Linked DNA regions of Homo sapiens: regions 1, 2, 3, 4 and 6 are each linked to region 5. Evidence: fine-mapped expression QTL. A gene starts in region 5. Each other region holds a variant in brackets. All regions are shown on one strand. Distances are from middle to middle.

Region 1 (5,079 bases), 170 kb before region 5:
CTACACATCTACAACCATCTGATCTTTGACAAACCTGACAAAAACAAGCAACGGGGAAAGGATTCCCTATTTAATAAATGGTGCTGGGAAAACTGGTTAGCAATATGTAGAAAGCTGAAACTGGATCCTTTCCTTACACCGTATACAAAAATTAACTCAAGATGGATTAAAGACTTAAATGTAAGACCTAAAACCATAAAAACCCTAGAAGAAAACGAAGTATCTGCTGTCTTCAAGAGACTCACGTAATACATAAGGACTCACACAAACTTAAAGTAAAAGGGTAGAAGAAGATATTCCATGCAAATGGTAACTAAAAGTGAGCAGGAGTAGCTATTCTTATATCAGACAAAACAGACTTTAAAGTAACAACAGTTAAAAAAGACAAAGAGGGATATTATAAAATGATAAAAAGTCTAGTTCAACAGGAAAATGTCACAATCCTAAATATATATGTACTTAATGCTGGAGCTCCTAAATTTTTAAAATAATTACTACTCTATGTAAGAAATGAGATAGATGACAACACAATAATAGTGGGGACTTCAGTACTCCACTGACAGCACTAGATAGGTCATCAAGACAGAAAGTCAACAAAGAAACAATGGACTTAAAATATACCCTAGAACAAATGGACTTAACAGATATTTACAGAACATTCTACCCCAAAACTGCAGGATATATTCTTTTCCTCAGCACATGGAACATTCTCCAAGATAGACTGTATGATAGGCCACAAAATATGTCTCGATAAATTTAAGACAATGGAAAGCATATCAAGTATCCTCTCAGACCACAGTGGAATAAAATTGGAAATCTACTCCAAAAGGAAACCTCAAAACCATGCAAATACATGGAAATTAAACAACCTGCTCCTGAATTATTATTGGATCAATAATGAAATCAGTATGGAAATTAAGCATTTCTTTGAACTGAACGATGATAGTGACACAAACCTATCAAAACCCCTAGGATACAGCAAAAGCAATGCTAAAAGGACAGTTTATAGCATTAAATGCCTACATCAAGAAGTCTGAAAGAGCATGATTAGACCATCTAAGGTCACACCTCAAGGAACTGGAGAAACAAGAATGAACCAAACACAAAACCAGCAGAAGGAAAGAAATAACAAAGATCAGAGCAGAACTAAATGAAATTGAAACCAAAAATACAAAAGATAAATGAAACACAACACTGGTTCTTTGAAAAGATAAACAAAATATATAGACCATTAGTGAGATTAACCAGGAAAGAAAGAAAGGTGATTCAAACAAGCTCAATTAGAAATGAAATGGGAGATATTACAACTGATACCACACAAATGCAAAAGAACATTCAATGCCACTGATACGGTTTGGCTGTGTCCCTACACAAATCTCACCTTCAATTGTAATAACCCCCACATGATAAGGGCAGGGCCAAGTGGAAATAAATGAATCGTGGGGGCAGTTTCCCTCATACTGTACTCGTATGTAGTGAATAAGTCTCATGATATTTGATGGTTTTATAAATGGGAGGTCCCCTGCACAAGATCTCTTGCCTGCCACCAGTTTTGTTATTTTTTTTTTTAAAGAGATTCTCACTCTGTCACCCAGGCTCTAGTGCAGTGGTATAATCACAGCTTACTAAAGCCTCAATTCCTGGACTCAGGTGATCCTCCCACCTCTGGAGTAGCTAGGACTACAGGCATGCATCCTTATACCAGGATAATGTTTTTGTATTTTTGGTAAAGACGAGGTTTACAAAGAAATCAGAACTTCATATACATCATATGTAAAAATCACAATATACAAAAATCAACTCAAGATGGATTAAAGACTTAAATGTAAAACCCAAAGCTACAAAAACTCTAGAAGAAAACCTAGGCTGTACCATTCAGGAATAGGCATGGGCAAAGATTTCATGATGAAGACACCAAAACAATTGCAACAAAAACAAAAATTGACGATTGAGATCTGATTAAACTAAAGAGCTTCTGCACAGCCAAAGAAACTATCAACAGAGTAAACAGACAACCTACAGAATGGGAGAAAATTTTAACAAACATGCATCTGACTAAGGTCTAATATCCAGCATCTATAAGGAATATAAATTTACAAGAATAAAAACAAACAACTCCATTAAAAAGTAGGCAAAGGACATGAACAGACACTTCTCAAAAGAAGACATACATGTGGTCCACAATCATATGAAAAAAGTCTCAACATCACTAATCATTAGAGAAATGCAAATCAAAACC[G/A]CAATGAGGTACTATTTCACATAAGTCACAATGGCTATTAAGAAGTCAAAAAATTACAGAAGCTGGTGAGGCTGTGGAGAAAAGGAACTCTTTTACACTCTTGGTGGGAGTATAAATTAGTTCAACCATTGTGGAAGACAGTGCGGTAATTCCTCAAAGACCTAGAGACTGAAATACCATTCAGCCTAGCAATCCTATTACTGGGTATATACCAAAGATAAACATCATCCAGTTATAAAGACACATGCACACATATGATCATTGCAGCATTATTCACAATAGCAAAGACATGGAATTGATCTAAATGCCCATCAATGATAGACTGGACAAAGAAAATGTGGTAAATATACACCAGGGAATACTATGCAGCCATAAAAAGGAACAAGATCATGTCCTTTGGAGGGATATGAATGGAGCCGGAGGCCATTATCCTTAGTAAACTAATGCAGGAATAGAAAACCAAATACCGTATATTTTCTCTTATAAATGGGAGCTAAATGATGAGAACACATAGATACATAGATAGGAAAAATAGCTGTGGCCTACTGGAGGGCAGAGGGTGGGGGGAGGAAAAGGATCAGAAAAAGCATCTAATTAATACTAGGCTTAATACCTGGTTGATGAAATAATCTGTAAAACAAACCCCTGACACACATTTACTTATTTAACAAACCTCCACATCCTGCGCTTATACCCATGAACTTAAAATAAAAGTTAAAAAGGAAAAAGAGAAGCCCAATACTAAATAATGTGAATATTCTGAGTTTCTGGTGGGGGAGGAATGGGTTTCTGCTGTATAGTAGAGACAGGCACAACTTTGTTTGAAATCCAGGGGATTTACTTGATTCTTAGTATTCACATTGTCCAGTAGTTCTCTTTAATGAATAACTGCCTCAACTCATTAAAGAAAATACCACTAAGGCTCAGATCTTATAGGAATGATAGTTTGGGTCACCTCACCAGGTGAAGTATTCTTTCCAACCAAGGTGCTAACTGAGGGTAAGGTATTCATATGATAGATGGTGAATGAAGGAAGATGTGATGGTAAACTCAGACCTTGTCACTACTAATGATGCAGGGACAGTAGCAACTAGGTTTTGTGTTAGTTTTCTTCTAATTTTTATTCTTCTAGGTTATATGATGATCCCTGGTAATGGTAACTGTTTTAGACATAATGCGTTTCTCTCAAGGTACTTGAGACAAAGAATTTGAGATAAATACATGAATGCACACTATTAATTTGAGAAATGATACTAGGAAGCATGATAGGGTAGTGGGGAAATAAGCATGGGAAGTTAAAGAAGACAATAAAGTGTTCATTATATTGAGCAATTTACTGCTTGGGGCAACTAGGACTCAATCCCACTGGAGAACTCTGGCGGACAGTGTAAGATATGAGTTATCCCAGATATATATATATATATATCCACTAACTCCTAGAAATTGTTGGTCAAGCGATGCTCCTGGGGTTATTATTAAGCCCTAGGTATTTCTGACCTGCTCTCTGAGAACTGGGCCAAGCATAAAGTTCCTGCTATTCAAAGTTAATCATTTGTTATATATGGGAGTGATGAATGTCTAGCTGACATAATACAAATGGGACACTAACAACATCTTCTACAACAGTGTTTTAGTTTTCAGTTGCAAATATATTTGAATTATTATAACCCAATAATTGTATAATAGCTAACAGGATTTGGTGTAGTTATCTCAAGAATTTTCTCACCCAAGATTTTTTTTTTCCAGCAAAGGGCACTAGCAGATTCTGAGGTACAAAAGTGATGGATTGTGTTGGATATCATCAGTTTGCTACTATAGTTCCACTCCCTACTTTTCTCCACTCTGCTCTGTACCTAAAGCGGTTGACCTATTATAGACAACATCAATGGTCTCCTTTACCATCTAGCTTAGTTTTAGGCTTGGCTTGTGAAGAGCACTGGCAAGAGATCTGAGAGCATCAGGAAACTTAAATCTGGATATTTATTCTTTCCTTTCCTTTCCTGATGAATCTCAATGGCTTGGTGGTGTCTCTTTAATAAAGGCTACATTTGTCTTATGACCCTCTGATACAACCACCTGTAGAGTTCACTTAACTTCTGTCTCCTCTTGCCTCTTCAGGCACCTTTTCAGGTGGTAATGGCTCTCTTCTGTTGCAAGACCCAGGATACCATCTCTTCCCATACAGATTTCTTTAAACTTTCCTTATGTCACTTAAACAGTCCCTTTTATTAAATTACTCAAAGAGAATGTATTATTAGGACTCAGTATGTATATTAACCTTCTGTATTTTTTTGAATTTGCTTCTTATTTCCTGTCTTATTTTTATATTGGTTCATTATTTCTTATAGATTTATAAAAATTCTTCACTTATTATGGATATTAATTGTTTGCTAGACCTATGACAAATAATTTCTCCCAATCTGTCCTTAAACTTTGTATATGGTATATTATAGAAACTTTAAAAGTTTTTTATCATCAAATATGTCAATATTTTTCTTTCCGTAAACTTTGAATGTTCTTTCTTGCGTAAGAAGTTCTGTTTTTTTATTTCGATAGTTTTTGGGGAACAGGTGTTTTTTTTTGTTACCTGAATAAGTTCTTTAGTGGTTATTTCTGAGATTTTGGTGCACCCACCACCTGAGAAGTGTACACTGTACGCAATGTGTAGTCTTTTATCCCTCACCCCCCATCCTACCCTTCCCTGCAAGTCCCCAAAGTCCATTACATTTCTTCTTATGCCTTTACATGCTCATAGCTTAGCTCCCACTAATGAGTGAGAACATGCGCAGTTCCATCCAGGTTGCTGCAAATGCCATTATTTTGTTCCTGTTTTTTTTTTT
Region 2 (5,079 bases), 76 kb before region 5:
GTGGTGTCACCACCTGTAGTCCCAGCTACTCAGGAGGCTGAGGCCAGAGAATCACTTGAGCCCAGCAGTTCAGGTTGCAGTAAGCTATGTTAGGGGTACCCCTGCCTGAGCAATAAAGGGAGGTCCTGTTTCAAGAAAAAGAAAAATAGGCCAAGCATGGTGGTGGCTCCTGTCTGTAATCCCAGTACTTTGGGATTTGAAGGCAAGGAGATCGCCTGAGCTCACAAGTTTGAGAGAGCAACATGGCAAAACCCCGTCTCTACAAAAACTATAAAAATTAGACAGGTGTGGTGGCACATGCTGAAGTGGGAGGATCGCTTGAGCCGGGAAGGTCAAGGCTGCAGTAAGCCAAGATCGTGCCACTGCACTCCAGCCTGGGTGACAGAGTGAGACCCTGTCTCAAAAGAAAAAAAAAAAAGAATTAATTTAAAAAAATTGAAAAAGAATTAATTAAATATTGCATCCAATATTCAAGTACATTTGTATAATGCTTGTAATGTTGTAATGTATTAACTTTCTGCAGCTTGAAACATGAAAATGAAAAAACCTGCAAAATTAATGAACTTTTCTGTAATATTTGTTTTATTTGAAAAATGATGAATATTTCAAAAAGAGCAAAGCTGCATGAAATGACTTAGCTCTGGTTCCTATTGATAGCTAAGTTTTGAAAGTCAGAATTTATATTTCATGTTTCAGAATTAACACAGTCTATGAGGTAATAGCACACCTTGCACTTGGGAAGGGGGTAATATGTCTAAGAAATCTAAAACATATTATAAACATTTAAAAATCTCCTTTAAGTAACTTAATATAATTTTATGGCATTAATTGCATTCTAAAATTGGGAAATTTATACCTTTATAGGTGAAATATGCTTACCTTTCTTTGGTAAATAGCATTTTTGCCTACATTTTTGTTCTAAATACATGGACATATCTGATCATTGCATTTTTTAAATTTAGGTTTTCTTTGCAAACTATGCACTATCATCTTCACTACTATTGCATTTTTCATATACAAACGTCGTCTAAATGAGAACACTGACTTCCCAGATGTAACTGTGAAGAATCCAAAAGTTAAGAAAAAAGAAGAAACTGACTTGTAACTGGATCATCATTGTGTAAGAATTACACATTGTCAATCTATCAATGAAATATTAATATTAATAAAATTTAAAGTAATAATAATGTAATTACATGTTTAACAAATGTGCTTCATATAATTCTATATATTTTATTATATTTTGAGTGCAAATATAATAATATAGTCTGTGTTTAAAATTTTTAAAAATATAAAATACACATTTAATACTTTCAATGAAAGATAATACTTTGATTGAAAGAGATTGAGTGAAAATAGGAAAATACACCTAGGTTAATTTTAACTGACGTGATAGCCCATTAGTTGTTGGCCTTTGCTATTTGGAATTAATTAGGTTCCCTTTTTAGCTTATTCTTAGTACTTTTGATTTGGGCAGTAGATATTTATTTCTCCATTTTTCTAAATAAAAGTATATTTGCCACTTAAGTTCATATAATTAAAGTTGAAATTAAAGTTATATTTATTTTCCAAAAAGGACTATTTTAAACCTTTTAAAAATTAACATTTTATTTATCTATGATTTGACATACAGAGGTTTCCTCAGAAAATTTCTTTGGTTAATTGACCAGTTTATAATAAATATTTTGATGTTTCGTTAATCTTAGTAAACATAAAATTCAATATACTCATATACTTCTACCTGTTTTTTGTTACCTTTTTCCTTTTTTTTTTTACCTTCACTTGGATTTTATTGATAAAGACTAGCTGATAATCTGAGTTGAAACCCACTTTTCTGCTTGCTTTTACACTTCATTTTATAATTAATCGTAATTATTTAATGTGAAGAAATATTTAAATGTAGAAAATGTGTCAACTATTTATAGATTTTTTAAGCTAAAATGCATTTGTATAGAGATTTTGTTATAATTTTTTATACATTATTGTACATCAATCGAAATTAGATTTTCCAAATATTGTATAAAAATCAGATTGTTGTGGAACAAGGTTCTCTACAATGTTTCTTTGTTTTCTTGGGAGAAGTGATAATAGCTGACAAAATTTCTCCTCTGTTATTAACATTAGTCAATGACCCTATGTGGATGGGTAGACATTGCCCTATTCATGGTCGTG[G/T]CTAGCAGAAGAAAATGTGAAGCAGGGAATATTCATATCTTACTACACATTTTTATTTCCTGTTGTATATTTTATTTCAACATGCATTTTAAAAACCTATAAACTAGTCTTCATGTAAAACTCTACTTGATTGCTTGACTCTTCTCTGTTTGAACCAGCAGGATTGCAGATCATTTGAGGATCAGAGTGTGAAAACGAGTTTCTCTTTTACAGATTCTCCAAGATTTGTTTCTGTGCCCAACTTTCAGAAGAGGAAAATCACACATTATGTTTACATAAGTAGCAAAAATATATTTATGGTGATCTGCATTTTCATAATAAAGTGTCCTATTGTGAAACATTTCTGATAATGTTTTTAATGTATGTAGAATTTTTAGGATTTACTGGGAGAATTAAAGTTTAATAATTTTAGATTATTTACATTTCTTCTTAATATTCTGCTGTCTAGAAATATTAAAAATTATACAACTAGGAAATAAAGTAAAATAATAACATTCAAAGCCACTTTGAACATGCTTGTACAGTGTGTTTGTGGGGTGTTTGTGTGTGTGTGTGTGTGTGTATAGATACATATTACCTGTTTATGTTTCTCTTGCTTTCTTTTTTTTCAGAAAATAAATCAGTGAAGGTATAATAAAAATTATGGATTGGGAAGTACTGTTGAAACTTTAAATTTAAATATAGATTTTTGCTATTACAGAGTACGTGTTTCTGTATCACAAACTAATTCATGGAGGATTGATAAACAGGGAAGTAATGTAAATATAACTCAGAAGTTCTATTGGTTAATTCCAATTTAATACCTCTTTAAGTAATCAGGGGAAGTTTTTCACTATTATAGAGAAGATCTTAGCAATAAATTAAATCTTAAAAAATGCTAAAAATCCCACAGAAGTGCCTTCCTTTGGAGTCAATTTTGAATGAGTTAATGCCATCAAGGTTCATTATACTTTTGAGAGTATTAATGTACCTAAGGATACTGTAAGTGCAGGTGAAGAAGCTGCAAAGATACTTCTAAATATTGGAATTCTAACTTTGATGAAACTGGCCTCTTTTTGGAGTTCATATCCTCAAGGACCTACATTTTAAAGGAGGAAGGTGAGCCCCAGCATTTAATACTACAAAGGACTGACTATGGTGGTGGGTAAAAATGCTAGTGGAGGTTTAACTGTGCTAAGGTGTGTTAAGATTCTGATTGTTTTTGTTAGAGCTCTGGTTACAAAGTTGAATATTTTTGAATGGTTTAACCTTAACAATATTTTCTCCATAAGCCTACTCAGTCCTGGTGCTTAATTTTGCCTAAAGGGACACTGTAAATGAATGCATATGGAAATGCTCATATTTTAAAATTGATGATAATTTATTTGTGCTCTTCAAGTTGCACTTGTTCTGAGTTCTTAAAATGATTGCTATAAAAATCTCAGGTTCTTACTCTTTTTCTTTTTGGATTCTTTTTTTATATCAGATTGAAATTTTACTGCTTGTAACATCTAGCAGTTAATCTAGTGTTAAATGTAGTCCAGAAATGCAATATGTAGCTAGGAAAATGTCAATTTGGGGTTTATTAATGGCGTATTTCTCCGTTTTCAGCACTATAAAGAGTTTGCTCCCATTTTTATATTTATTTGGTTCTTTCAGTCTGGCAGACACAGAGAAGTAAAGGTGTGTTCAATTTAATATTTTTTAAAGCACTCTTTATATTTTTAACATTGTCTATATATAATATAGACAATATAATATTTTATTTGGGTATCATATATAGCACAATATGGGTTTTCAAACTCTAATGTGAGACTACTTTCTGAGGATCTGAATATCTGCTATTGAAAGTGCTGGTGATGAATTTATTAATCTATTGTTGACTCTTGATATAGGAGGTTTCTACTAGCTATAAACATTAATTATAGTCCTTCCCTGTTGATTACATATATATATGTAATCAACATATATTACATGTTTCTCTTTGTGTGTATATATATATATATACACATATATATATATATATATACTCTGAAGCAACAAACTCTACTCTCTCTCTCTGTCTCTCTCTCTCTCTCTCTATATATATATATGTACCTTTTATTTTAAGTTCGGGGTACATATGCAGGTTTGTAATATAGGTAAATTGTATGTCATGAGAGTTTGCTGTACAGATTATTTTGTCACCCAGGTAATAAGCATAGTAACCAATAGGTAGTTTTTCCATCCTCACCCTCCTCTCCCCCTCCACCTTCAAGTAGGCCCTGATGTCTGTTGCTCCCCTCTTTGTGTCCATGTGTTCTCATAATTTAGCTTCCACTTGTGAGAACATGTATTTGGTTTTCTGTTCCTGTGTTAGTTAGCTTAGGATAATGGCCTCCAGCTCCATCCATGTTGCTGCAAAGGAGATAATCTCATTCTTTTTATGGCTGTGTAGTATTTTATGGTGTATATGTACCACATTGTCTTCATCCAGTCTACTATTGATGGGCATTCAGGTTGATTTCATATCTTTGTTATTGTGAATAGGGCTGCAATGCACATCTCTGTCCATGTGTTGTTATGGCAGGTTGAATTATATTCCTTTGGATATATACCCAATAATGACATCACTGGGTTAAATGGTAATTCTGTTAGAAGTTCTTTGGGAAATTGCCACATTGCTTTCCACAATGGCAGAACTAATTTACATTCCTACCAGCAGTGTATAAGCATATCTTTTTCTTCACAACCTTGTCAGCATCTACTATTTTTGGCCTTTTTATAATTGCCATCCTTACTGGTATGAGATGGTATCTCATTGTGGTTTTGATTTGCATTTCTCTAATGACAATAGTGTTGAAATTTTAATATTTGCAAGCTATGCATCTGACAAGAGTCTAATATCCAGAATATATAACAAACTTAAACAAATTTGTAAGCAAGAAA
Region 3 (5,079 bases), 57 kb after region 5:
AGCTGTGGATTTGTTATATTTGGGCTCTATTATATTGAGGTACACTCCTTCTATACATAATTTATTGATGACTTTTATGGAAAATATGTCTTGTTAATGAATACCCTTTCTCTTTACATTTATTAAAATTAATAAAGACTAGTGACTCTTTGGTGTTATTTGCAATATTTTAGGTCAGATAACATTTTTCTTCTTTTATAATCCCAGGAAGATTAAACCATTTATAAGCTCTTACAAATGCATTATTTTGCGTTTACAACATTTACTTTAATATAGGAATGCTAAACTCTTATAAATGTGAACTTGCTCAAAGAGTGAATATACTATACCACCTTTTTTGGTCTCATATATATTTAATATTTCCAGGTGTGTTAATCACAGACAACGGTCCCTAGCCTTGGGAATACAATTTATGGTCCTTCGATTATTAGGTATGCCATTTTTCTTTATTCATTGCTAACTGTTGGCTATTTTGGTTCATTAGTGTTATTTATTTTTTAATTTATGGCCTGTGGCAAAAAAAATTATAGTGGAAGGCTACATCATTCTTGTTGAAGGAAGCCATTTTCCAATGTTTCAGATATAGGATTATTTACTTATTGCATACTTTTAACCTACCTGACTGGTTACCTGTTCCAACTATGTTGCTAATAAAATCTTAAAAGGTGTGTCATGTCTATTTCAAATATAAAATATGATCATCAACACATAATTTCTTTTCTCTCTGCTTTTGTCTCTATTCGTGACACTATTGTGTTACACTAGCAATTAAAAATGATGTTAAAATGTTTCAACAGCAACTGTGGTATGGATATTGTGACTAGTTAAGAATTATTGGAAGAAAGAATTTGTACCAGAGAATTTTATAAAGTTCCAGGTACAGGACAAATTACAAGAAAGACAGACATAGTAAACATAATATTAAGATTATTTATTAAAGCAAAAACAAAAAGTTGGGGCATTAGAGATCACCTCGTCCAACTTGCCAATTTTTTCAGATGAGTAAATTAAGTCCCTGAGAAGTGCAGGGTTTTGCCCATAGTTACACAACTAGTGATAGAAATGAAAGTAGGAAAATGATTCCTAACTCTGAGTCTAGTACTCTGACTTGTATCATGCTACAGGTCATGAAAGAACAGACTGGATGTAGCTGAAATCTTTGTCTAAAAATTACAACCTCAAATAATTGGAAGTTTCTTAACTATATGGAAGTTGAGTACCTCATGGCCTCTTGGAAATGGTGGCGGGTATATAAGATAGTGATATTCCTAGATATGGTATTATAAGACTATATATTTGTATATACATACACTAATACATACAGAGGCCCATGTTAGTTTATATACACATGCACACCCACATAGATACAACATATACTATAGTTCAGCAGATTTATTTGTGCATCATGAATAATTTATTTTGATTTTTAACAAGTATAATAGCTAATTTCAAAGGCATATTTATTCATTATATTAGAAAAGTGGTGAATTAAAATATTAACTTTTAGCCCAATATATATTGGATATTTCTATTGAAATACTTTTTTGAATTGATTAGAAATACATAGTAATTACATATAATTATTTTAGAATATTGTATCTGCTTTATATTTCTTTGACTTGTACATGAATTAATTTGCATGTGGACAGATGAATACTTATTTTTATTTCTATAAAATATATGTATGATCATGTATAAAAAGATCTGTAATTCTAAACTGTAATCTTTACTGTTGTATATTTCACCCATAATTCTTTTAGGGACAATTCCTGGACCAATTATATTTGGTTTCACAATAGACAGCACATGTATTCTTTGGGATATAAATGATTGTGGAATTAAAGGAGCTTGCTGGATTTATGATAACATCAAGATGGCCCATATGCTAGTAGCCATAAGTAAGTGGTGACTTCTTGATAATTTTAGAGTAAACTAAGGATGTAAAAAAAAAAAAATCTCATTGTTGGTTACTTAGGGTCACAGGTATTTTGAAATGTTCAGTCCACATTGTTGAACCATCCAGTAGTCTTCCTGAAGCAGAGAACATTTATCACAGCATGTTATGAAAGGCTTTGAACAGATGGAGTTTGCAAGGCTCAGTACTAAATACAAGAAAATAAAATTCTAGCTTTCATTACATCATACAGTATATACTTTTCTTTTAATAACTTATCTCAAACATTTTTGGAAAGTATACTCGAAAGCTAAAAGAGAATTCTGAGAAACTCCCTGGAATGATTGTCATCTAGGTATCTAGGTGTTGCAAACACATATGGCTCAGGCAGGGAAGTATCCTTTGTCTCCAAGGCACGTTGTAAGGAACATTTTTATAGTTTAGAAGGTTAGCTGTGATGTTTAATTCTTTTTGCCTTTTGCAGTTTGTAATGTCTTGGTTAAGCAATGAATGAAATTTAAGGCAAGATTAAGATTAAGTAAAACAATGTATCTAGTTTACACTAGTAAAATAAAAGTTGAAATTTAAAAATTTAAAATTTGAATAATAACCTAGGAAACTAAAATAGCTTAGAGAAATCCTGAATGTATGTATACATATGTATCTAATATAATGTGTGATTTTCATTGT[G/A]ATTATTTTGACACAGGTTGATCAAGATAGGCTATTATTACTCTTACATGCATGTAAATCCAGAGTATGCTTTCTGAGTTGATAGAGATAGAGTAATAGAATATTTGCTGAAGAAATAATCTATAAATTCTTATAGCACTTGGGGAGTAAGTATTGACAAGTATAGGCAAAATTAATCATCCCATTACTTTACCTGTTGTTAAAAACCATTTTTTATTCAATTTTTAAAATTATATATTTTTACCACAATCATGGCTACATACAATGTTTTTATGTTTAAAATTTATTTAATTCATTTTGTTTGTACTTTTTGGTCAAAGATATAGATAGAACAAATCATTCATTTTCCTAGTCAATGATGAATGGGAATCCCCCCACAAAATATATAAAACCTTAAAATTTTCAGAATGAAACAAATAAAAAAAGTTGTAAGTTGTACCTATGTAACTAATCATTCTATAGTCTAGTAATGCCTAGATGAATGAGCATTCCTGTTTTTCAAATACATGTTTTTAAACAAAATATTAATAATCAACAAAAAGAAACCAGCTACTGCAAGAACTATACTGTGAGACCACGTTGAATTTATTAGGCTGGCAATTATTAAATGCTTATACTGTGGTTGGAACTAGTTTCTCTTCATATAACTGAACTTAAAATCAGATTTACTTGGAAATAAATCAAAGTTTGTGAAGTGAATCTTAATGTTTATTTTTAGCTGATAAGAAGAGTAGATTTGGTTAAGTATTGAGTGTGATATCCTCCCACAGAGGCTTTAAGAACTCCAAAACCTTTTTAATTTTTAGAATTATTTTCTGTCCTGGAAGGGAATGTTCTTCAATTTATTCAGGTTCAAGAATGTTACAAACTACTTTCCCTCATTATTGACTTTTGGTTGCTTGCAATTTTTTATAGATATCATATTGTGTTAACGAATTTATTTATTTATTTTTGAGACGGGGTTTCTGTCTGTCACCCAGGCTGGAGTGCAGTGGTGTGATCTCAGCTCACTGCAACCTCCACCTCTAGGGGTGAAGCGATCCTCTCACGTCAGCATCCCAAGTAGCTGGGACTGCAGGCTGTACCATCCATCATACCTGAATATATTTTGCACTTTTTTTTTTTGGTAGAGACAGGGTTTCCTATGGTGCCCAGCCTGGTCTCGAACTCTTGGACTCAAGACATCCACCTCTCTCAGCTTCCCAAAGTACTGGGATTATGGGCTTGTGTTAACAAATCTAGATGGTGGCCCAATTCCTATTTAGTTCTATACAACACTTATTTTACAAGAATGCACAAGCATAACCAAGAATAAGTTAATTATTGTGCTCTATTACAGCTTAGAAAGAAAATAAGTACTAGTGACTTGAATTGTATACAAATGTTTTTTCTTTCCCCTTAATGTTTCAAAAATTTTAAACATAGAACTATAATGGTTATGTAATTATTCTCTTTAAAAATGTTCTATTCATGAAGATTTTTCTCAGTGATAATTTTTATCATAATTAAAAACAAAAGCACATGATTAATTTTTTTTTTCACTTAGGTGTTACTTGTAAAGTTATCACCATGTTCTTCAATGGATTTGCAATCTTTTTGTATAAACCACCTCCATCAGCCACAGATGTGTCATTTCATAAAGAGAATGCAGTTGTGACTAATGTTTTAGCAGAACAGGATCTCAACAAAATAGTAAAAGAAGGGTGAAATGGGAAAAGAGAAGACTGTTTTACACCTGGAAAATTTACCTCGATTTTTAAGAACACACATTGCCATGGCAGGATTATCTATCCAATATGGACAATCATATTTACAAAATTGATGTTTTTATAATCAAATGTATTTTTTTACTTATGTAGTTTTTGTTTTATGCAAGAAACAGACCTGTGCCTTCAAAGCCCACGTAAAGCCTCAAAACACAGCACACACACACACGAGCACACACACACACACACACACGAACACACACACACACACACACACGCACACATACACACTTATTTCCTATTCCCATTGTCTAGGTATGAAATCCTCAAGCAATAACAAGAAAAAAGGCCCACAATTAGAAAAATTTACATTTAAAAAAAATGTTGTTTCTATCCCCATTACAACTTGTTTAATTTTAATTTTCATTGTCAATATTTTGAGCTTAGAACATTTATGGTATAAAAATTTAAACTAATCAAAGTTGTGTGATGATTTCCGGGAATTATTATTGAAAGCCTATGAATTTAAAACCAGGTTTACCATGTAATTTGTTTTTAAATTTATGTATACTAGCCTGGCCTTTCTCCAAGCAAATTATTGAACTATTAGAATATGTTAGTTATCATCCTTGTGTCTTAGTATATAGTGAATACAGAAACATCAGCATTGTATACACATATTTTCACTTTAACTCAAGAATTCCAGGAGGTAATTTGTTGATATTACAATTTTTAACACATTTATGATTCTGTGATAATATTATTCAATTGCATATATTTCAGAGGAAA
Region 4 (5,079 bases), 41 kb after region 5:
TCCTCAGTGATACAAAGATTAATACTGTAGGATTTTTGCCTCTAAGCGATTCACATCCTAGGGAGAATTTCACATTATATGCTTTTATTGATTTAAGTTTTTAGAAATGGAAATAACTCCATAATTATGATAAAAATTATCTTATTAGGTTGGTTGCAAACAGACAAGAAGAGAAATTAGAATAAAGCTAGTCCTTGCTAATACTTACCATTATTGTATCTACTTAGAAGTTTATGTTTATTGTAAATAAATAAATAACTTGTTCTCACCTGTAGACATGTTTCTAGCTATAACTGATTCAACCATTTATATTTCTTTGTTTTCCTTTTTTGTTTTGCTTTGAAATTTTAAGCCATAAGTAGGTGGTCAGGCAGGAGGGTGTTGCACAGCAGTGCATTTTATACCTCACAGTGCTGCTTTAATTGTTTCATTACATGTGTTTGAGGCTGTCAAGGAAAGTGGTACGTTAGGTCAAGGACTCCATAATTTTGTATAATATGACATATAGATGATATAAATATAATCTACTTTGCTCAGAAAAGTTTGCCAATGACAATCATCATGATTTGTAGTTGCTGCTAATATATCTGTGATTCTTTTACATTAATGCTGAGTGTTCTAAAGCAGTGTTTAGTTAAGCTCCATCACATTTTTTTCTTTTTTTGTTTTTTTTAGACAGAGAGTCTTGCTCTGTCACCCAGGCTGGAGTGCAGTGGCACAGTCTTGGCTCACGGCAACATCTGCCTCCTGAATTCAAATGATTCTTGTCTCAGCCTCTGGAGTAGCTGGGACTACAGGCGCATGCCACCATGACCAGCTAATTTTTGTATTTTTAGTAGACGTGGGGTTTCGCCCTGTTGGCCAGGTTGGTCTCAAACTTCTGACCTCAAGTGATCTGCCTGGCTCGGCCACCCAAAGTGCTGGGATTACAGGTGTGAGCCACCGCGCCCGGCCAAGCTCCATTACATTTGTTCAACATTTGTTGAATGCTTCCTCTGGCAGATCTTCTTGGCAAAATACCTGTTCTAAAGGAGAGATTGCAAAAGAAAACAGTGAACAAATAGTCAATTAGGTAATGGGAGATTAAAAAAAATTGCTATGGAATTGAAAAGAAGGTGAGCTTTTCAATTTTATTTGATTAGAATCCAGAAGGGCTTCACAGCATAATAGTGAAATGGGGTTTAAAAATCCTTCAAGGATACAAAGAGTTTTGAGAAATAAAGATTTGAGAAGAGAGAAAGGGAGAGGGAATATGCTAAACCAAGGTTATAAATGCTATAAAATGTGAAGGCTAGTTTCAGAGACCAGGTTGAATGGAACTTAGATTATGTGTCTAGAAATAGTAGAAATATATTTTGGAATGTTGAAAGGTAGGTAGAGGTTAAGTTGTGTAGACCTGACTTTCACCCCTATAAACTTCACCCAAACTTATCCCAGTAAACATTTTTTGTATGTTCCTTTTAGAAAAAAAAGGAAGTTCTGGATAGTTTAACACATAGTTTATCACCTTGAGTAACAAAGTACATGTGAATCCATTTAATATTGTCTACCTTAAATAATAGTTACTACCAGGTGTGCTGTCCAGGTGTGTAATCAGAAAGGAAGGCATGTGTGATGGGGTAATTCTGAGGTTCACGTAGGGGTTGGCCATTAAGATATATTAAGATCTGGGATATAGTGTTTAATACACATACATGTTTCTTAGTGATGAGAAAAACTGAAAGTGAATACACATAAATATCACTAAACGTATATGTTTTTACTCATATTTATGTATGTGTGTGTATATAGATATAAATAGAAATAGGAACAGAATTTAATGTCACAAAGTAGGTGTGACATTTTCAGATCATTTTTTTCTCATGGCCCCAAATTCTTAGTTTTAGCTTCTATACACTGAGTATTAAAATGTGTATATTACAAACAGGTCAGTCAAACTAGTCTCATCTAAGAAACACGTATAAAAGAAAAGGTACAGGCATATGTTGAGGATATTGTGGGTTTGCTTCCAGACCACCAAAATAAAGCATATATTGCAATAAGCAACTCAAGTGGATATTTTGGTTTTCCAGTGCATATAAAGGTTATATTTACCCTATACTGTAGTCTATTACATATACAATAACCTTATTTCTAGAAAAGCAATGTACAATGTATATACCTTAATTTAAAAATTATTTATTGCTGAAACATGCTGACAATCATCTGAGCCTTCAGCAAGTTGTAATTTTTTTGCTGGTAGAGAGTCTTGCCTCAGTGTTGATGGCTGCTGACTGACCAGGGTGGTGGTTGCCAAAGGTTGGGGTAGTTGTGGCAGCTTCTTAAAATAAGACAATAATGAGCAGTCAGAACACACACATCATTCATTGATTAAATTTTACTTCTTAAAGGGGCATGGTTCATGGTGTCCTGAAACAATTATTATAGTACATCAAAAATCACTGATCACCATAACAGAAATGATAATGAAAAAGTTTGAAATTTTGCAAGGTTACCAAAATATGAAATAGACATAAACTGATCGTGTACTCTGGGAAAAATGGCACTTGATAGACTTACTGAATACTATCACTATCACTAGGTTGCCACTAACCTTCAGTTTGTAAAAAACACAAGATTTGCAAAGTACAATAAAACAAAGTAAAGTAAAGCTAGGTAAGCCTGTCTATGGAAAGAACAGACTAAGAAGCTCAAGAAATACCTTTTCAGGGAGTGAGAGACAGAAGAGGTTCTGAGGATGTAGGGTTTCTAGTAGAGGGGTGCAAAGAATCTTTGACTTTTGCCATGGTAAGCACAGATGGGTAAAAAGAGATTTTGCATCCATGAATTAATGAATTAGGTTCATTGATATGTTCTTTGAAAGTCCCTGTTTAATATAACAGCATTTCCAAAAAATGTAAGATCAGGGGATATATATATATA[TAA/A]ATAATTTCAACTTTTAGATTCAGGGGGTACATGTGCAGATTTGTTACCTGGGTATATTATATGATGCTGAGGTTTGGGGTATGATTGATTCTGTTACCCAGGTACCAAGCATAGTACTGAATAGTTTTTCTTTTCTTTTTTTTTTTTTGAGATAGAGTCTCCTTTGGTCGCCCAGGCTGGAGTGTAGTGGCACGATCTCAGCTCACTGCAACCTCTGCCTCCTGGGTTCAAGCAATTCTCCTGCCTCAGCCTCCCGAGTAGCTGGGATTATAGGCGTGCCATCACACGCAGCTAAATTTTGTATTTTTAGTAGAGACAGGGTTTCACCATGTTGACCAGGCTGATCTTGAACTCCTGACCTCAGGTGATCCACCCGCCTCGGCCTCCCAAAGTGCTGGGATTACAGGTGCGAGCCACTGTGCCTGGCTAATAGTTTTTCAACACTTGCCCCACTTCTTCTCTTCTCCCTCTTGTATCTGCAGTGTCTATTGTTGCCATCTTTATTCCATAAGTACTCAGTGATTAGCTCCCACTTTTAAGTGAGAGCATGTGGTATTTGGTTTTCTGTGCCTGTGTTAATTTGCTTGAGATAATGGTCAGGATATTTTTCAATAATATTTTAAAGTAATTTATTATTAAATCTTTAATTGGGCACAATACTAAATTCGATTGCATGAATACTGTTTATTTTCCCACTGTTCCCCACTGCTCTTTTGTTGCCTTGACAATCTATAGGAACTTTGAGTCTTATTTTGGTGATCAGTGGTGGTAATGATGATTCATGTTTTACTTAAAACCTCATAGAATATAGAAATACCATAGTGTATACACACAGTATTTTTTTCTGTATCTGATCTTTAGCTAGAATTTTATTGATTATATGAAATAGCATCTTAAAGAGGCATATCAATATTTTGCAATAGTTTTAGGGAAATTTTAGCCTGTTATAGAGGCATAATTATAGAATACTTTGTATTTAAGAAATTAATGTTTGAATTCTACTTGTGGCAAACATAAAGATGTTTATATATGCACATTTATTTTATTATATTTTAAATCTATTAAACATTTCAAAATAGGATATTTTAATATTTTTAAATATGTATACACTAAGAAAATTTAATAAACTTCACAAGCATCTGCCGTTTTTCTACTAATAGCTTTCTAGTTACCTCAAGAAGTAAACCTTTGTAAAATATGTAGACTAATGTGACCACCCCTTGATATTAAGGAATATAAGCTATATTTCTTTGTTAATACTATAATTTGCATCATGCTGTCTTATACTTTGTATGATCTCAGTAATTATTTATCAATAACATGAGAATTATATATTGGGAACTTTAAAAATTGCTGTGTAAAGGCTATTTCTAGAGTTGCAGGGATGGTTTTTCTCTGGTTGTCTTATTTCTGCATCTATGTTATGAGCTCTGTGAGCGGACACTCTGGTGATGGCTTTTGTGAATGTGATCAACCCTTGATATTATCATCATACTTGATAAAGATAAATCTGGCAGCATCTGTGGAATAGATTTGAATAAGATGAGACTGCAGGCAGAGTGGCAGATTACTATCTTGATCACTCTTTCCTTCAGACTCCCTACTGATTTAGTCATTTTTTTCTCTTTAATTTGTTTTCTTCATGACTTTCTTGTTCTCCGCCTACTTTGTATGTCATCATTTTCCAACACAGTGTCGGTTATCTTCTAATACTTACAGAAATCACTCATTTACTGTGTTTGACCCCTGATGCAAGGAAGTTAGCTTCATGGTGGCAGAGGTTTGCTTCTCCTCCTCCCTCCCTTCTTCCCTTCCTTTTCCTTCTTTCCCTTTCCTTATCTCTTTCCCTTCCCTTCCTCCCTTCTTCCCTTCCTTCTTTCCCCGTTTCCCTTCCTTCTCGCTTTTCTCCCTTCCTTCTTCCCTCTCCCTCCCTCTTTCTCCTTTTCTCCTTCACTCCCTCATTCCGTTCCTTCTATCCATTTCTCTCTCTCCCTCAATCTGTCATTTCTAGTTCTAACTCTAGCTCCTTCTTTCTTTTAAATATAATTCTACCACCTTGAGTAGTCTAGCACATAATTGGTGTCCATTGTGTCTTTATTAAATAAGTGGACTCCCAAGACTTCAGTACCCTTCTCATTCCATACACTATATGAC
Region 5 (5,079 bases):
CTCAAACTCCTGGACTCAAGGCACCCACCTTGGCCTCCCAAAGTACTGGGATTACAGGCCTGCACCTCTGCGCCCGGCTGGCCAGTCTAGAGTTTTCTCGATTGTGAGGAAACAGGTAACAGAATGTACCTCTGTCCAAAGTAAGATACATATTTTATATCTGTCTCTCAACCCAGTAAACACAGCATATATAATTGAAACAAAAGTTTCACAAAATAGTATTTATCATATTATGTGCCATGTACTATGTATTATTACTGTCTGTTTCCTATTAAAACATAAGCACCATAAGGGTAGGGGTATTTGCCAGTCTTTGTTCACTTGTGTACCCCCAGAACTTAGAACAATGTTTGGCACCTAGGACACAAGAATTTTTTGTGTCTGTGTTAAGTGAAAGAATGAATGACTAAATTGTACCTACCATGACACAATGGTGTTAAGCTCTTCGAAGTGTTTTTCTTATTTATTCCACAGTTAGACATGTATTATTATTATTATTATTATTATTAAGAGACAGAGTTTCACTCTTTCACCCAGACTGGATTGAAGTGGCACAATCTCGGTTCACTGTACCCTCCACCTTCCGAGTTCAAATGATTCTCCTGCCTCAGCCTCCCAAGTAGCTGGGATTACAGGCCTGCACCACCACACCTGGCTAATTTTTGTATTTTTAGTAAAGACAGTGTTTCACCATGTTGGCCAGGCTAATCTTGAACTCCTGACCTCAGGTAATCCACCCGCCTCAGCCTCCCAAAGTGCTAGGATTACAGGCGTGAGCCACCGCGCCTGGCCCGGTAGAAATTATTTACATGATTGTCATCACTGTATATCTTACATATGCAATATACAGCAGAGAGACAATTTCTGGTCCTTCAGTTTCGGAGAAGGAAAAGCAAAGCAGTGGTTATGCTGTGATGTTCATCCTGGTGGTGATGGGGGTGGGGTGGGGTGGATTTCTTTTTCTAAGGAGGACTGAGGCAGGAAAATAGGGTCTGGAGGCAGGAAACATAAGGCCTATTCACACTTCAGCTGTAACAGGAAATATCCTCTCCATAGGGCGTAGGCCATAAATGACTTTGTAACTTTACTTCATCTTCTCCCTTTACATAGGGCATACCCAAAGTAACCAATGGAATCCTCTAGGGGGTATTTAAACTCCCCAAAATTCTGTAACCGGGCCTTTGAGCCCCTATGCTCGCCCGTTCCCACACTGTGGAGTGTACTTTCATTTTCAATAAACCCCTTCATTCCTTCCTTGCTTTGTTTGTGCGTTTTCTTCAATTCTTTCTTCAAGATGCCAAGAACCTGGACACCTTCTACCAGTAACAGGATGACAGGCAAGAGTCTTATCAAGATGCTCATGAACCAAAGTATACCTCTGACGTCTTGATTCTTGGAGTCCAAGCCTAGACTGCTTTGGTAAGCAGCAAAGGAAGAAAACGCAAGATAGTTTCCTGAACAATCTCCTGATGCAACTGTTTACAGGTTTCATGTCAGCACCCAAGGGGAGCTTATGGCCAGAGACTCCCACAGTCTCTGTGTGTTCCCAGTGCTTGGGCTCAAGGGAGGCGCGCTGCGGGCTGAAGGCTCAGGTCAGAACCGCAGGGGCTTGGGCGGAGGCGGACTCCGGTCGAAGGCTGTGGGGTGAGAACTCTCGCCCCCTCTACTCGGCCGCCGCCGGGTGGCACGCCCACGCCGCGCCTTCCGGTTGGTCCTTGAGGCGACGGGTGAGGCACAGCTGAGCGCCAAAGCCACAGGCTGGGGCGCTAACGCCCCCGCTCAGCGCTCTGCGCTCCAGACAGCTGCGAGCTGGAGTAGGAAGGTTCAGGCGGTGGCGGAGAGTGCGCTGGAGGCTGGAGGGCCAGGAGGCGGGAAGCTTCCCGCACGGGGGCGCTGTCACCTGCCTGTGGGAGGAGCCAGAGAGGGACCTGGCTCTGCTGCTCTGAAGCACCGGAGTCGGGAGAACCCATCCAGACATGAAGAGCGCCAAAGGTATTGAGAACTTGGCTTTTGTCCCCTCCAGCCCAGACATCCTGCGCCGCTTGTCTGCGTCGCCCTCCCAAATCGAAGTCTCTGCCTTGTCCTCTGACCCCCAAAGAGAGAATTCTCAGCCACAGGAGCTTCAGAAGCCCCAGGAGCCCCAGAAGTCACCAGAGCCATCTCTGCCTTCAGCCCCTCCCAATGTCTCCGAAGAGAAGCTCCGGTCACTGTCGCTGTCCGAGTTTGAGGAGGGGTCTTACGGCTGGAGGAACTTCCATCCTCAATGTCTCCAGCGCTGCAACACACCTGGAGGCTTTCTGCTTCACTACTGCCTCTTGGCCGTCACGCAAGGTAAAGTCCAGCGCCCGCTTGAGGCTCGGGCCAGTGGAGAGCGAGGTGGGCACGGCGAGCCAGCCGGGGGAGAGGGCAGGTGCGCGGGGTCCGTGGGACGGTGGACGCGCCCTGCAAGGTGGCCCCGGGTTTGGAACTTGCTTGCGCTCTCACCAAGGTCAACCTACCGGCCCCCAGCCAGCCTTCCAAAGTTCAGCTTCTCCTTTATCACTACAGTTCAAACTTGCAATACAAGCCTTTTTCTCTTTTGTGTTTTACCTCAGTTTAGCGGATTCAAGACTTACAGGGAAGATTACAAGAACCTTCCTTTGGGAAAGGTATACCCTGGGGAGTTTATTTTACATTATAAAGACAAAAATTTACCTAGGCACTCTTTAAAGGTATTTTACTTTTACATTTGTTTCATTGCCTCAGGGGAAGGAGTAATACGTTTGCAGGTGGGAGTGGGATGCCTTACAAGGAAGAAAGCTATGAAAAATCTATCGTATAAATTAGATACAGACATTCATGTTTTGTGAGTGTATTTAGTTTGAGAGTATGTGGTCACCAGAGGAGCCCAGTGAGTAAATTAGCAAAGGCTCCCGACGTTGTTGAGCCTTAATCTTCATTGTGTTACATTAGTTATCCAGCATCTGTTTTGTTCTAGGATCTCTTTTAGGTTCTCTTGGGAGTTACAGATTCAGTTCAGATTTATACCCTCAGGGGCTTGCAATCTAAGCTCAGTTTGGAGGAGTGATATCCTGGAGGGAGAACAGCTCCCTTGAAAGAAGGCACAGGGAAGGTTAAAGCTGCTTCTGGTGTGTTCAATACAGAGGTTGAAGGAAAATAGGAAGTTAACCTGAGTTGACTTTGAGGAAGGGTGGAGAAGAGGTGGAGAGGAGTCAAGAAGGACATGCCGAAGCTTAGCTGAATTGGAATGTAGATATTTTTTGGTCACTTGAGTCATAGTCCGAGAATATTTTCTGTATAATCAGTCAAGGATTAATTGGAAGAAATACAACCTTAGAAATATAGATTTTAGAGGGTTGGAAACAGCTCATTTTTTAAGTTAATAGAAAACTAAGTCAAAGCCTAAGTATACTTTTTGTTCTTATTCTTCCTCTTCAAGGAACCCAGGGCCCCTTGCTTTGCGCATTAGATGCTAAGTAACCATTTATTGATTGCAAGTCCGCTGCAGCTCTTCTACTGAAGGTAGATTTGTGTTGAAGAATTATTTCCCTGTCCACTTTTCTTGTCCCTACCAAAGTTCCCCTCCATTAATGTCTTGATCATAGTTTTACAAAATTGGTAATTGTGAAGCATCTCAGTGTCAAAGGAATGCGAAGATAAAAAAGTTGGACACAAGTAAAAAATGTCTTATCTTGTGTATTATCTTAAAATTCCTCTGAAATTTCTATATTATTCCAAAATATAACATTTTATATTTAATATAAAATATTGCCTAAAATTGTTATCAAATGTAATTGTCACTCCTAGAAAATTTGTCAGGTTTAGTCTGGAGCAGCATCTACCCAGAGGTCCCCAATTTAAGAAGCTTAATCTGAGATAATAGTGACCCAATAGGCTGGGCATGGTGGCTCACGCCTGTAATCCCAGCACTTTGGGAGGCCGAGGCGGGCGGATCAGTTGAGGTCAGAACTTGGATACCAGCCTGGCCAACATGGTGAAACCCGTCTCTACTAAAAATACAAAAAATTATGGCCGGGCGCCGTGGCTCACGCCTGTAATTGCAGCACTTTGGGAGGCTGAGGCAGGCAGATCAACTGAGGTCAGGAGTTCGAGACCAGCCTGGCCAACACGGTGAAACCCCGTCTCTACCAAAAATACAAAAACTAGTTGGGCATTGTGGCGCATGCCTGCAATCCCAGCTACTTGGAGGGCTGAGGTGGGAAAAACACTTGAACCCAGGAGGCGGAGTTTGAAGTGGACCGAGATCGTGTCATTGCACTCCGGCCTAGGCAACAGAGGGAAACTCTGTCTCAAAACAAAACAAAACACCACAAAAATTAGCCGGGTGCGGTGGCACACGCCTGTAGTCCCAGCTATTCAGGAGGCTGAGGCACGAGAATGGCTGGAACCCGGGAGGTGGAGGTTGCAGTGAGCCGAGATGGCGCCACTGCACTCCAGCCTGGTGACAGAGCGAGGCAAGGTCTCAAAAAAAAGTATAATAATAAAAAGTGTGACCCAATAAATTACTAGTTTACGTTTCAGTTTAAGTTTGAATGCCTGAAAACTTTATTGCCATGTTTCTCAAACATGATCCTTAAGATCATTTCCATGGTATATTTAAATATACATTTAATTGGAAAGAAAAACAAAATTTCTCGAATGAGTTTATTTAACCCAGCATTTCTCAAAGACAAACAGGGATTCTCTAAGTACTTAATTTTCTAATGTGCTTCCTATTGTCATTCATTTACAACAGAGAGATGTAGTATGGAGCGTTTCCTGATTTTTTTGTTTTTGTTTTTTTAAGTAGTGTTCTTGGAACTTGTATAGCATAGAATTCACTTTAAGAGTCATTGGATTAATGTGCTATCCTTCCTGAGGAGTTTACAAATTTTTTTTTCAAAGAGAAGTTTTACCATAAAGACAATTCTTTCTATTAACTAATTTTTAATCAGTATGGCAAGTGATAGGGAAGTTGATTTTATTGGATGCGGAAAATTTTGTATTATTAGATAACGTATAAAAATGTCATCCTAAGATACTTTAGGTACTTTATTTTGAAATCCTAAGAATTGTAAA
Region 6 (5,079 bases), 200 kb before region 5:
ATTATTATAATTTGCACCATCATGCGGTTTATCTACTTCATAGGCTCATTTGCTAAAAGGATTATATGAATTATCATCAATATGTTACTTTAGTGAGTAGTTCTTCCTACATGTTTAGAGCATTTAGCGGAAATAGATATTACATAGAGAATATAAAAGAGCACCTCATAAACATTCATTGTTTAATTTAAGCTGGTTTCTTGAATATCTTAAGCACTTGGATTGCTGAACTCATCAGGGAATGCTTTAGTTGGTAGCTATATTTCATTGCCTGTATCGAAATTTTATACTATAATTACTTGCTAACTTTTAGGAAACATGTAATTAATATGCATACATTTTAAGATTCAAAGATAATTTTTTTCACATTTAATATTTCTGGAATTGAGATAGTTTTATAACTCTGATCGACATCATCTATAAAAAGATTTTTAAAATCAGTGATCTGTCTCAGGAAAATACATACAACCATGTTAATTTCAGTATGGTCAGAGCAAAAATTGAAAAACAATCCAATACCCATCAATATAAAAGAAAGTGGTTAAATAAATTATAGTAAATCCATACCATGAAATTCTATCATGCATGGTACTATCATAAAGGTAGCCAAAATGAATTAAGTGTGATGTTTTCTAAGGTTAAATGAGCAAGGTAAACAAATATCCACAATTTCTACTTAAATACTTAGAGTACAATTTTTGTAGCTGGATGACAGTGTCCTACATTATGTAATAAAAATATGCTGATCAAAGAATGTTGAAGGTATGTTTGTCAGTGTTTCCATTCCACCCTTAGCTTTCAGCAGGTCCTGTATGCTTGCACCACAGGTAGGGTTTCCCTCTGCTCTCTTGACTCACCTATATTGGTGGAGTGCTGTTTTTTCACTCATGCAAAACTCCTCATCGAGGCAGAAGCTAGGTTGTCCCTGGTCCAGCCTCAATTTTGGACATGCCCTGAATGCCTGAACCTCAAGTTCGGGCTTTGCCTTGTTTCAGTGGGGTTCTTGGGAAGAAATGAAGTTCCTGCTCCTCTCTTTTTGGCAAACTGTTTTATTTCTATCCCTCTCTCTGGTGGCAGTCAATCTTAAGGTAGGCCATAGACAGGATGGTTTGCTGCTCCTCCTTCAGTGGGTTTTTTCTTCTGTAACAGATAACCTTTGTCACAGACTGGAGGGCATGAGAGTTTCCTGCCTCAATCCCAGAGGCAAAACTGCTTTTGCTTTGGATAGCAGAAGGGTCAGTGGAGGTAGGAGGGAAAGTATTCCTTCTTCTTTCTCAGGGACAGTCTACCACGACCAAATCTTTTCCCTTAAACAAAGATCTGGTAAACGGGTATAGACTCCCCTTATTTCTTAGGCTTCTAGGGTTTCTAAACTGTTAAGCTTCCCTTGGCCTTTAAGAATTCATTAAAATTTCAAGTGTTTCTATCTTCCTTTATGACTGCTTTTTCTTCTTTCTGTGCTCTTTGAAAAGTAAAATGGTTTGTGTGTCCCATCCTTTTTCTGAAGGGCTTATTGTCCTTTAGAATCAATTTGCCTAGTTTCTTTACAGCAGCCATAGCTATAGAAATGTAGCTCTCTGATAAAAAAAGTATTTTTTCATACTATCCAGCTTTGTTGTTGTTGTTATTATTGGAGTGGGGGTTACATTTTATTTGGCTTTCTACATTCTGGGTAGAAGTAAAATTCCCAGTACCATTCATTTTTAATGGAGTTGTCTTTTCCGCTCTGCACCCAAGCAGTACCTATTCTGGTTTTGAAGCACAAGAATAAGAGCCCACCACTCCCCACTGTCTTTCCTACCTCCTAGGATTCCTGTGGATTTTTTTTTTTTTTTACATTTATTATCATGAAGCAGTGTAGAGTCGAAATCAGGCTTCAGGTCAGTGGTTCTTAATTCTTCTTTCCCTGGTCTACCAGGCCAGCACTATTGGAGCAGCACAAAATCTTGTTGAAGAGCTAAATTGTTTTTGGCAACACAATGTCTAATCCATAGGAGAGAAGATAGTGCCATCTCTCCTGGAAAGTCACCCTCCACATATACATGGCCTAAAGAGCTTATATATCAGCCTAAGAAAAGAAAACCAATAAGAAGTTGCATTTTCATTAAAAAAAGAAAGCCACGTTTCATATCCTACTACTCTTCGCTTACATTCTTTCTCTTCAATAAAGTTTTTATACCTGAAAAAATAATCCTCTGGTTCTCGTGCCCTCATTTAAGGTGGAAAATGATAATCTTTTCTGTTCTTGAGTTGGGATAGAGTTTGTAGGGCAATAATTTCTATGTGTAAAACACTTCACTTAAGGACATTCAGTCGGACATTGATTTCTGATTTTTGTGCGTCCAAATCTTTTACTGTGGTGAAACTGTTTTTGTTGTTGTTGTTGTTGTTGTTGTT[T/GTTT]TAATGTCTTCTGCTCTCTCCTGGTCCTTCAACAATTTTCAGGTTGTTTCTAGTGAGATTTTTCAGTTGGAAAGCCACCATAATAAAGTAAGTCTGGGGAAACTGGGGACGGACAGTTCCACTTTTTTTTTTTTTCCATGCTTCTGGTGCTCTTTGTCTGTGTTAGCAGTTATCAAAATCTAGTTTTAGCTTTTTTTTTTCCTTCCGCACGTGGAAGAAAAGAAGGAAAACAGCTTTGGAAGTTCTCAACCGTCAACCCCCGGGAGGACGTTTGCCTCCTGCCCTAGGAGAAACGTTCGCTCTGGAGGCTTGGGCGGCAAGAGCCCCTTGTGGCCACCGAGTCCTCCGACGCCCTCGCCAGGCTGGCCTTTGGGTTGGCCCAGGCAGGACGGGCAGCCGAGAGCACTCGGGCCGCGTCGCCAGGAGCCGCCCAGGGTGAGCCATGTTCGTAGGCGTCGCCCGGCACTCTGGGAGCCAGGATGAAGTCTCAAGGGGAGTAGAGCCGCTGGAGGCCGCGCGGGCCCAGCCTGCTAAGGACAGGAGGGCCAAGGGAACCCCGAAGTCCTCGAAGCCCGGGAAAAAACACCGGTATCTGAGACTACTTCCAGAGGCCTTGATAAGGTTCGGCGGTTTCCGAAAAAGGAAAAAAGCCAAGTCCTCAGTTTCCAAGAAGCCGGGAGAAGTGGATGACAGTTTGGAGCAGCCCTGTGGTTTGGGCTGCTTAGTCAGCACCTGCTGTGAGTGTTGCAATAACATTCGCTGCTTCATGATTTTCTACTGCATCCTGCTCATATGTCAAGGTGAGCCTGAAGGAGGCGGTTTGTTGTGGCGAGGGCAGCTGGGGCCGCACTGGCGGAGGCGGGAGAGGGAGTATGGCGGAGGACGCCCTGGGGTGGCCCAGCATGCCCTGGGGTGGCCCAGCCTGAGGCTGCTTTCTGACTTCTCAAGGCGTTGTCGGATCAAAGTTTAGCCACCCAGTGGGTTTACCTTGCCCGCTGCCTAGACAGAGAAGATTTATCAAGGAAGGGGAATTGCCATGGAGAAAGAGTAAGGCACGCAGAGCCGGCTGTGCGGGAGACCAGAGTTTTTTTATTGCTCAAATCAGTCTCTCCAGCATTCTGGGATGGGATCAGAGTTTTTAAAGATAATTTGGCTGGCAGGGGCTCGGGAACTGGGGAGTGCTGATTGGTCAGGTTGGTCAGGGAATCATAGTGTGGTTGAAGTCAGGTTTTCTTGCCATCTTCTGTTCCTGGGTGGGATGGCAGAACTAGTTGACCCAGATTACTTGTCTGGGTGGTGTCAGCTCAACCATCCAGTGAAGGGTCTGCAAAATATCTCAAGCACCGAGCTTCGGTTTTACAATAATGATGTTTTCCCCAGGAGCAATTTGCGGAGGTTCAGACTCTTGGCGCCAGAGGCTGCATGACCCCTAACCTTAATTTCTAATCTTGTAGATAATTTGTTAGTCCTGCAAAGGCAGATTAGTCCCCAGGCAACAAGGGGATCTTTTCAGAAAAGAGCTATTATCAATTTTGTTTCAGAGTCAAACTGTGAAATGAATTCCTTCCCAAAGTTAGTTCGGCCTAAGCCCAGGAATGAACAAGGAGTTTAAAGGTTAGAAGCAAGAAGGAGTGGATTAGGTCCAATCTGTTTCACTGTCATAATTTCCTCATTTATAATTTTTGCAAAGGTAGTTTCAAAAACAGGTTAACCGGCTGGCACGAACTTGGGTGCCTCACCTCCTCCAGAACCTGACTGGCACAGTCCATCCTACACATTGTGGGTGATGAGGGCCTGGCTTCCAGATAGCCAGCTGCAGAGAGGATATTGTTGAGTCATTTATCGTTGTTTGGTCACCAACTCTGAGAAGTTCTGGGTTGAATCACCTGGAGTTTAAAATAAAGTTGAAAACGGTGTCTATGATCATTAAATGGTTTCTGATCCTGCTCACAAATTTGCGACATTCTGGCTCAGCCACTCTCTATTGGATCTTTTTTCCTCATCTATGAATTTATACAAGAGAATCTAAACTTGAGGTTGTTATTTTTGCCCACATATTTTGAAGAAGGTGAATTTGAACACTTTAGACCTGGCATGCCTCTCTACTTGACCACAGCTCTCACCTCCCCTATTACATCAAGATTCTTTACTAGCCTCTTTTCAATGATGGCATTGGAATTTGACAAACCTGTTCTCTTTTTTGCTCTAAGATGCTAGGTCTAAATAAGTGCAATCAAAAGGCTGTATGTTGTAAGACCCATACTAGAAAAACTAATAAATTGTCATCGAGTTTGTCTTGAGATTATCAAAGAAGTTTCTTAGAAGAACAAGCATTTGAACTATGCCTTTATAGTAGGTACAGTTTTGAAAGCCAGAATGAAATTAAAGAGTATTTGTTGAATAGGGAAGCGAGTTAATGAATCGTGTTTTGTTTTAGAAAGGCTTGTTTCACAATAGTGAATGACAAGTTTGGCTGGATAATGGTTTCATCTAGGCACCATAAGGGGGTAATTATATTTATATTATCCATCATGTCTCCTTAGTGACTGAGGTATAGAAGACACTCAGTAAATATGTATTCGATGCATGAATGAATTTTAAAAGAAAGGAAAAGACAGATTATGCCTAGATTATGAAGGCCTTTAAATACCAGACATAATTCTGAAAGGATATAAAAGGTAC

The links. PIP is the estimated chance that this variant, and not a neighbour inherited with it, causes the effect.
Region 1: its variant is fine-mapped to the expression of SLCO4C1 in whole blood (INTERVAL, PIP 0.93).
Region 2: its variant is fine-mapped to the expression of SLCO4C1 in whole blood (TOPMed, PIP above 0.99).
Region 3: its variant is fine-mapped to the expression of SLCO4C1 in whole blood (TOPMed, PIP 0.90).
Region 4: its variant is fine-mapped to the expression of SLCO4C1 in monocytes (TOPMed, PIP above 0.99).
Region 6: its variant is fine-mapped to the expression of SLCO4C1 in whole blood (INTERVAL, PIP above 0.99).

The regions. Positions count from the first base shown.
Region 1 is chr5:102,463,901-102,468,979 of GRCh38, reverse strand. All of the region lies in intron 4 of SLCO6A1 (solute carrier organic anion transporter family member 6A1), which reads left to right. Among named protein-coding and RNA genes, the nearest start is that of SLCO6A1, 33 kb to the left of the region's middle. The variant G/A (reference allele first, on the strand shown) is at 2,240.
Region 2 is chr5:102,369,378-102,374,456 of GRCh38, reverse strand. SLCO6A1 (solute carrier organic anion transporter family member 6A1) reads left to right here. Exons shown (of 14, transcript NM_173488.5): 13 at 963-1,120; 14 at 2,334-2,683. The coding sequence ends at 1,105. Among named protein-coding and RNA genes, the nearest start is that of SLCO4C1, 76 kb to the right of the region's middle. The variant G/T (reference allele first, on the strand shown) is at 2,173.
Region 3 is chr5:102,236,070-102,241,148 of GRCh38, reverse strand. SLCO4C1 (solute carrier organic anion transporter family member 4C1) reads left to right here. Exons shown (of 13, transcript NM_180991.5): 11 at 367-431; 12 at 1,761-1,898; 13 at 4,131-5,079. The coding sequence ends at 4,291. Among named protein-coding and RNA genes, the nearest start is that of SLCO4C1, 58 kb to the left of the region's middle. The variant G/A (reference allele first, on the strand shown) is at 2,585.
Region 4 is chr5:102,251,799-102,256,877 of GRCh38, reverse strand. The region is part of intron 8 of SLCO4C1 (solute carrier organic anion transporter family member 4C1); the gene reads left to right. Among named protein-coding and RNA genes, the nearest start is that of SLCO4C1, 42 kb to the left of the region's middle. The variant TAA/A (reference allele first, on the strand shown) is at 2,923.
Region 5 is chr5:102,293,160-102,298,238 of GRCh38, reverse strand. SLCO4C1 (solute carrier organic anion transporter family member 4C1) reads left to right here and starts at 1,955. Exons shown (of 13, transcript NM_180991.5): 1 at 1,955-2,331. The coding sequence starts at 1,977. RefSeq lists an enhancer at 1,990-2,189.
Region 6 is chr5:102,496,605-102,501,683 of GRCh38, reverse strand. It overlaps SLCO6A1 (solute carrier organic anion transporter family member 6A1), which reads left to right and starts at 2,683. Exons shown (of 14, transcript NM_173488.5): 1 at 2,683-3,197. The coding sequence starts at 2,840. It overlaps LOC124901035 (a long non-coding RNA gene), which reads right to left and starts at 2,598. Exons shown (of 2, transcript XR_007058892.1): 1 at 858-2,598. RefSeq lists an enhancer at 2,796-3,296. The variant T/GTTT (reference allele first, on the strand shown) is at 2,398.